Homo sapiens: one gene and its partner. The protein of the gene in region 2 purifies or fractionates together with the protein of the main gene of each other region. This does not show direct contact. Each region holds a gene or a part of one and is shown on either strand. Other genes may lie near its edges.

Evidence for each region.
Region 1: the proteins of SPOCK3 (region 2) and MMP3 purify together in Homo sapiens (affinity purification with western blotting, with the first as the bait; one study listed by BioGRID). This does not show direct contact.

Annotation. Positions count from the first base shown.
Region 1 is NC_000011.10:102,837,673-102,840,662, forward strand, and holds part of MMP3 (stromelysin-1 preproprotein), read right to left. Parts: intron 2,922-2,990; coding exon 2,757-2,921; intron 2,581-2,756; coding exon 2,436-2,580; intron 1,572-2,435; coding exon 1,438-1,571; intron 1,039-1,437; coding exon 879-1,038; intron 1-878. UniProt on the Homo sapiens protein: Metalloproteinase with a rather broad substrate specificity that can degrade fibronectin, laminin, gelatins of type I, III, IV, and V; collagens III, IV, X, and IX, and cartilage proteoglycans.
Region 2 is NC_000004.12:166,909,437-166,913,272, forward strand, and holds part of SPOCK3 (testican-3 isoform 1 precursor), read right to left. Parts: intron 3,308-3,836; coding exon 3,184-3,307; intron 1-3,183. UniProt on the Homo sapiens protein: May participate in diverse steps of neurogenesis. Inhibits the processing of pro-matrix metalloproteinase 2 (MMP-2) by MT1-MMP and MT3-MMP. May interfere with tumor invasion.

The DNA of each region.
Region 1 (2,990 bases), on a different chromosome or scaffold from region 2:
TTAATCATCTTTCTGTCACAAAGACATGAAAGTGTGAACATATATATAAAGTGAATTGAATCAACATCTAAAATGCAATTTTAATTCCCTACCACAATTGGCCCATATATGCCTGCTGTCCCCTCCCCTGCACATCTAAATCTTCTCTGGTGGCCTCCTGGGAAAAGGGATTAGGATAAGAAGCAAAGCACAGTAAGTGTGTTTTTAGCCCATTGGCTGGATATCAGATGGTCGGCCTCGATGTCTCAAAGTCTGGCCAAATGACCCAGGAATCAACCTGTCTGTGAGTGTTGGGTTGTATCCATAAACTGGACTGCTATTGATCATCATCTCTTAAATGAGCCATCATTATCAGGTAGAGGTGACAAGTGGGTGAGGTTAGAGGTAGCCCTTGAAAATCATATAGTAGTGTTAGGAAGACAAAACAAACACACAATGAGACAGTGACAAACACACAGTGAGACAGTGAGCCAAACTAAAAGACAATGGGAAGGGAACGCTAAATTGCGGTCTGGGTTCTCAGAACATTTTCCCAATGGGTCTAAAGTCCACGAGGGAAAGCTGCATGGAGGTGATGAGACTTGAGCCAGGACTTGAAGGATGGGCAAGATTTGAATAGGTTGAGGAGAGAAGAGGGGGCTCCAGGCAGGTGGGGTGACAGCACCAAGGGAAGCACCAGCCAACTGCACTTGGGACTGAAAGCAGGAGAGCCTAAGGTGCTGCTGTTTTAAAGTAAGAACTTTCCCACAGTTGTCTGAAGTCCCATCCTTCCTACTAAGAGAGAAGCAGGCCTAAGGTTGGGGTGGGGGATTTCCTTAGTAAAAGAAACTAATTTCCCTAATTAGGCTCCATACAAAGTCATTTCTCTTGCATCTCACCTCCAGTATTTGTCCTCTACAAAGAAATATGTTTTGTTCTTTTCCTTATCAGAAATGGCTGCATCGATTTTCCTCACGGTTGGAGGGAAACCTAGGGTGTGGATGCCTCTTGGGTATCCAGCTCGTACCTCATTTCCTCTGATAGCCCAGAATTGATTTCCTGTTAAATATAAATAATTCAGAGTCATATTGAATTATAACAGTTAAGCCCTTTCGCTTTAGAAATACACTTTAGCATCTTTGATTTTCATGGTAAAGTAGTAGCCCAAATTTTAGATTTAGTCACCAGCTTACAGTGGGCTTTTCACAAAAATTTGCAGACTGAATGAATGAACTAAGGTCAAATGAGAGAATTTACAACTCTGGGTAATTTATCTTCTTGTCTTTATTTTTATCATCTATGAAATATAAATACAATGATATCAGCCCTGGTTATTTCTTCATTACCGTTGACTACTGTATTAGCCAGAACTTGTAGTAGGGAAAATTAAAGTGTTGTTCAATTTCTTATGAGAGGGTTTACTTTGGCAAGTTAAACAAATGATGATATAGTAATTACCTTTAAAAATGAAAACGAGGTCCTTGCTAGTAACTTCATATGCGGCATCCACGCCTGAAGGAAGAGATGGCCAAAATGAAGAGATCAAATGCAATTCAGGTTCAAGCTTCCTGAGGGATTTGCGCCAAAAGTGCCTAAAATATATGTAAAAAGAAATGTAAATTGAAAAACAATCTTTCACCTTTAGAATATTTTCCTCACCGTCTTGCCTCACCCAGCTTCCCCCATTCTCTCATCTTCTAGGCTGGATGACAGATAGAAATCAGGTATATTGCCATTAGAAAATTTCTTTCCTTTTTCTTCAGAAGACTGTAGTGAGTCTCCCGTCATAGGTTTCCAGAGTAATGTCTTCTATGAAAGAAAAATTATTCTATCGTGCAAATGAATTAGCCCAGCATAAGCTTTAATTACCTGCAATGTATGCAAAACAGTGCGTGTGCTATACCCTCTTCCAAAAGCTAGGCCGTGTTTGTATACGTGTATGTGCTGTGTAAATATATTCTTGTATGTGTGTAGAAAGATTCTGGAAGGATGCACAAAAAGTCTTGACTCTGGATGAGTACAGGGAGAACTGGGAACTAAAATTTTTAATTTGCTTCTCATTTGTGCTCTTTGAATGTTTGTCATGTGCATATTGATCCATCAGTAAGTAAATTACTTGATTAAATGTAATGTTGATCCTGATGTCATTTTTAAAGGAAGTAAAAATAAAATTATTATTCGAAAGATCTACTCATGCCTTTTGAAAAGTAACTGTGACTTAAGACATTTGGAAACAGCAATTAGAAGCTAAGAACCAGATCAGCCTGTGCCTTCAAAAATGAACCTGACAATTTTAGGAAAATGTGGGAAAAGGCAGCACCAGATCTAAATGATTCCAAGCTCAGAAGAAACGTTTTTGTTTTAAATGTCTAAGAATCTCTATCAAGTTTCTGCGTGTTTTCCTTTCTAAACATTGTAGATTAAAATGGTAGGAAAATATAATTTTTCAGCCTGACCTGTCTTTAAAGATCAGGATTTCTCCCCTCAGAGTGCTGACAGCATCAAAGGACAAAGCAGGATCACAGTTGGCTGGCGTCCCAGGTTCTGGAGGGACAGGTTCCGTGGGTACCAGGGGGGTCTCAGGGGAGTCAGGGGGAGGTCCTAAAGGGAACATTAGGGGAAATGTGATACGTTTCAATATATGCCCATTTGTATGCTTTCCAAACATTCTCACGGTGCTTTGAACTAAATCATAAATACTTTATGTAGCATTTGAAAGCTCTTCTGAAGACCATCATTGCAAAACTACAATGGCTGATTTTCCCAGTGTCACTCACCATAGAGGGACTGAATGCCATTTATATCATCTTGAGACAGGCGGAACCGAGTCAGGTCTGTGAGTGAGTGATAGAGTGGGTACATCAAAGCTTCAGTGTTGGCTGAGTGAAAGAGACCCAGGGAGTGGCCAATTTCATGAGCAGCAACGAGAAATAAATTGGTCCCTATTTAAGAAATTGAGAACAATAGTTACTTATTTTTTAAATACATGTGCATTACACAGGTCTGCTGTG
Region 2 (3,836 bases):
AATCTCCTCTCTATAAAATAAGCTGAAAGTAATGAACAAACATTGTGGGTCTAAAATAGAACTTGTAGGAATATTATTTGTAGTATTAAAAAAAAACCATTTGTATCAATGCATGGGTCAACAATTCAGCAGACGAATAGGAAAGGCTTCCACAGCAAGACTGCACTTCCACACTGAATGTAGGGCCCCACATCCAAGACTCATCATATCTGGCTTCTGATTAATCTTTAACATATCAGGACTACTCAGGGGAGGATTTAAAACTTCAAGCAAGGAGCTTCATGGACCCTACTGAGCTTAGAATTTGGAGCTCATCATTATTGTTCAAATGTGTTTAAATCTGACCTGTCATAATTTGCAAGTTTATTGACAAAATTTAGTGATCCAAGAGCCAGAAGAAAGATCTTGTGATCTCTTATCTATATTCTATTTTCAACTCTCATAAGCAGATGTTGGGAACATAATAAAATGACATTTACAAGAAGGTACTGGCCTTTGTGGTCTTTGTTTTTGATCAGTAGCTAAATAGCCTAGGGCAATACTTTCTTATGAGGGGGGAACAAAAAAACACCAACATATTGAAGTCCTTAATTTGAGATTCAAATCAAATAAACTCTTAAAAAAAGATTAGTAAGGATAGTTTCACCTAAATCTTTACTGGGCTAAGAGTTCTACTTAGTTTTTCATTGTTTTATATAGCTCAGTCTCATTGCTGTCAATGCAAAAGTTTAAGATTAGGATGGATGGTTCAAAGTGGAAAAGTCATTAAGTTAAATTAGAATTAACAGAAATAAAAATGATGATTTAGGGTTATTAAAGACCCATATTCACTTGAAGCATGCTTTTTGTAATGTCTTTCTATGTAAAAAAGCATTTGTTAAAAGTGACATTTATGTAAATAAATATTAAAATAATAATTCAAATATGGATTATCTATAAGATTGGTTTTGTTGATACTACTAATAAAATTAGATGATTTATAAGCCAAGGTATCACAGTGTGCCTCACGCCCAAGGAGAACAATGAGGAAACCCCATGAAATTGAAGATATACCTGAATTAATCTACGTATAATACGTGCTTTTAGTCTTGAATGAGAATATGAGAGCTATTTCTTACATGCTAAGTAACTCTAACATCATCAATCAAGTCTTATCAAGTAGAATTCCACTTATAATTGTAACTTGGTGTCCTATGAAACTAAATTGGGAAAGGAAGGATCACCTGCTAGGAGCAACCTCAAAAGAGTCCCAAAAATGTCAGCAGAAGCCAGTAGACTTCTGTTAGCACTCTCTGGGGATGATGACACCCTAGGCACAAACATATCAGTACTTCTGGCACATATTTCCAATGTTGAGAAAGACATACTTCTACTTAGGTGGATGCCAGTAAAACTTTCCAATCTCTCTACCACTGACTCAATTTATTCAATCATCTACACTCACCAGATAAAATTAGGATTAAAATTTACTTCCTCTGTAGTTCTTCCTATCAGTTTGAATATTACAATCTGCATCCTTCATTATAAGTCAATAAATCAGCAAAATGATTTATACATCATTTCCATGTGGAATTTTATAATATGAGATAGATTCACTCTCCCTTGTACTGGCAACAGGAATTCACTAAACTTGCAAAGCCAAGGCCCTACCTATACCATGTTAAATTCACCAAGATCAAGACCATGTTGAAAGGACCCCTGACACACTCCTCTCCTAGCGATAACTCCGCTTCTATATACATCTATAAAAGTTTAGCAGGTAGACATATGACAGCTTCACTAAGGATACACAGTACTTGGCACCTAGTGTGTACTATGTATTTAGTGACTGAATTAATTAAGAGCATTGTAGTGCACTTTCCCAGATTTGTAATTGTAAAAGGCAAGTGGAAGTTTTGGGGAAATATTTGCTCAGACAGATTATGATTCATAAGCAGGTATCCACAAAACCAAAACATATAAAAGGTAGGAAAATTCTGGAAATAACTGCAGTAAGCACAATCAGATATGAACTGAAGAAAGGTTATTTATAGATTTAATGTATACTCTTTAATAAGAATATTTAAATTGTTGCTTAAAAATGTATTAATATGTTTTTGTTTTTGTTTTTTGTTTTTTGAGACAGAGTTTTGCTCTTATTGCCCAGGCTGGAGTACAATGGCGCAATCTCAGCTCACTGCAACCTCCGTCTCCCTGGTTCAAGTCATTCTTCTGCCTCAGCCTCCCGAGTAGCTGGGATTACAGATGCCCAACACCATGCCTGATGCATTTTTGTATTTTTAGTAGAGACGGGGTTTCACCATGTTGGCCAGGCTGGTCTCAAACTCCTGACTCAGGTAATCTGCCCACCTTGGCCTCACAAGTGCTGGGGTTACAGGCGTGAACCACTGCACCTGGCTTAATAGTTTAATTATAGGGTAAGCTCCTTCTAGGGACACTGCATAATATGCTACACTACCTTTCTAAAATATATATTTTTTAAATCTAAATTTTTAAATGTATGCAGTCCCTAGGGTTTCAGATAAAAGACAGTGAACCTGAACTCCTTACTTTCTGTTACATAAGCTAAGGAAATTTATCAATGTCTTATTTAGGCAAAGTTTGTAAAAATCCCAAAATATTTTAACAATATGGGACACTTAATTGGGAGGAACAACAATGTAGAAGAGAGAGCAAAGGCATTGAATCAGAGATTATATCAAATCCTAGCTTCAATGTCAACTAAATATGTGAAACTTGTCAAATTGCCTCTCTGATCCTGTTTTTTTCATCTGGTAAAGAGATTTTTGGTGGCTTAAATGAGATAATATAGGAGATAAAATATGAGATTAAAAAATAATTCTAATGACAGATTGTAGCACATTTATTGTTGTTAAAATAATATTGATCACTAAAGCTATTGTACAGCATGCTAACATTTCTGACTTCTTTCATAGTAGCAACAAAGGAAAGGTTGGCTTTGATATCTGAGGGTTCATAGCTTTAGTATTTCAAACCTTAAAAATTCTGATATAGAAAAAACAAATGCACATTGAATCATATTCCAAACCAGTGAGATTATTAATTTATTTTATAAGTTAAATGAATAATTTGAATTATCACATTGGATAAGCAATGGTTTTAATCATTTACTAATAAGTATGCATCCCTTATTTCAAACTAAACAACTGTAGGTGTCTTTACCTGAAAAGAGTAGGTATGACCATCTGAACCACAAACAGGGCTGGGATAGACCACTGGGCACTGCTTGCAGGTGGATAATATGGGACCCCTCCACTGCCTATGGTCTACTCCTGCTTCTTTCATCCTGTTAAAAAAATAAAGCAAGCATATTGAGCATATTTATTTTAAAATATACATTTATATTAGCTCATTCCTCTCCTAAACTGCCATTCCAACTCCTGAAGATACATTAGAATCAACAAACTATTCTCATTTTTAATTTATTATTTCATGCCATATTTTTCATTATAATCTTTTGATTTATATCTTAAGGCTTGCCTCTGATAAAAAAGAATATGTTCCTTAAATATATTCTGCTAGTCACATATAAATGATAGCTGTATTTCTTCATGTGAACCCTTTTGATAGACTCAGAAACAGAAGCAACACTTGCTCAGCAATAAAGAACTCACACATCTGGCACCTTCTTAAAAGCCATCCTCATGTTCCATTAGGAACAATATAAAAAAGATGACATCTAATCCACTGGGTGCCTAAAAGTAAGAGTGGCTTACTTTTAGAGAAAACAGAAATAAAGAATTACAATTTTCCAGGATTTATCAGTATTTAGAAAGCCAAATTGCTAGGTTTAGTGATAACAAATCTCCTTTTGT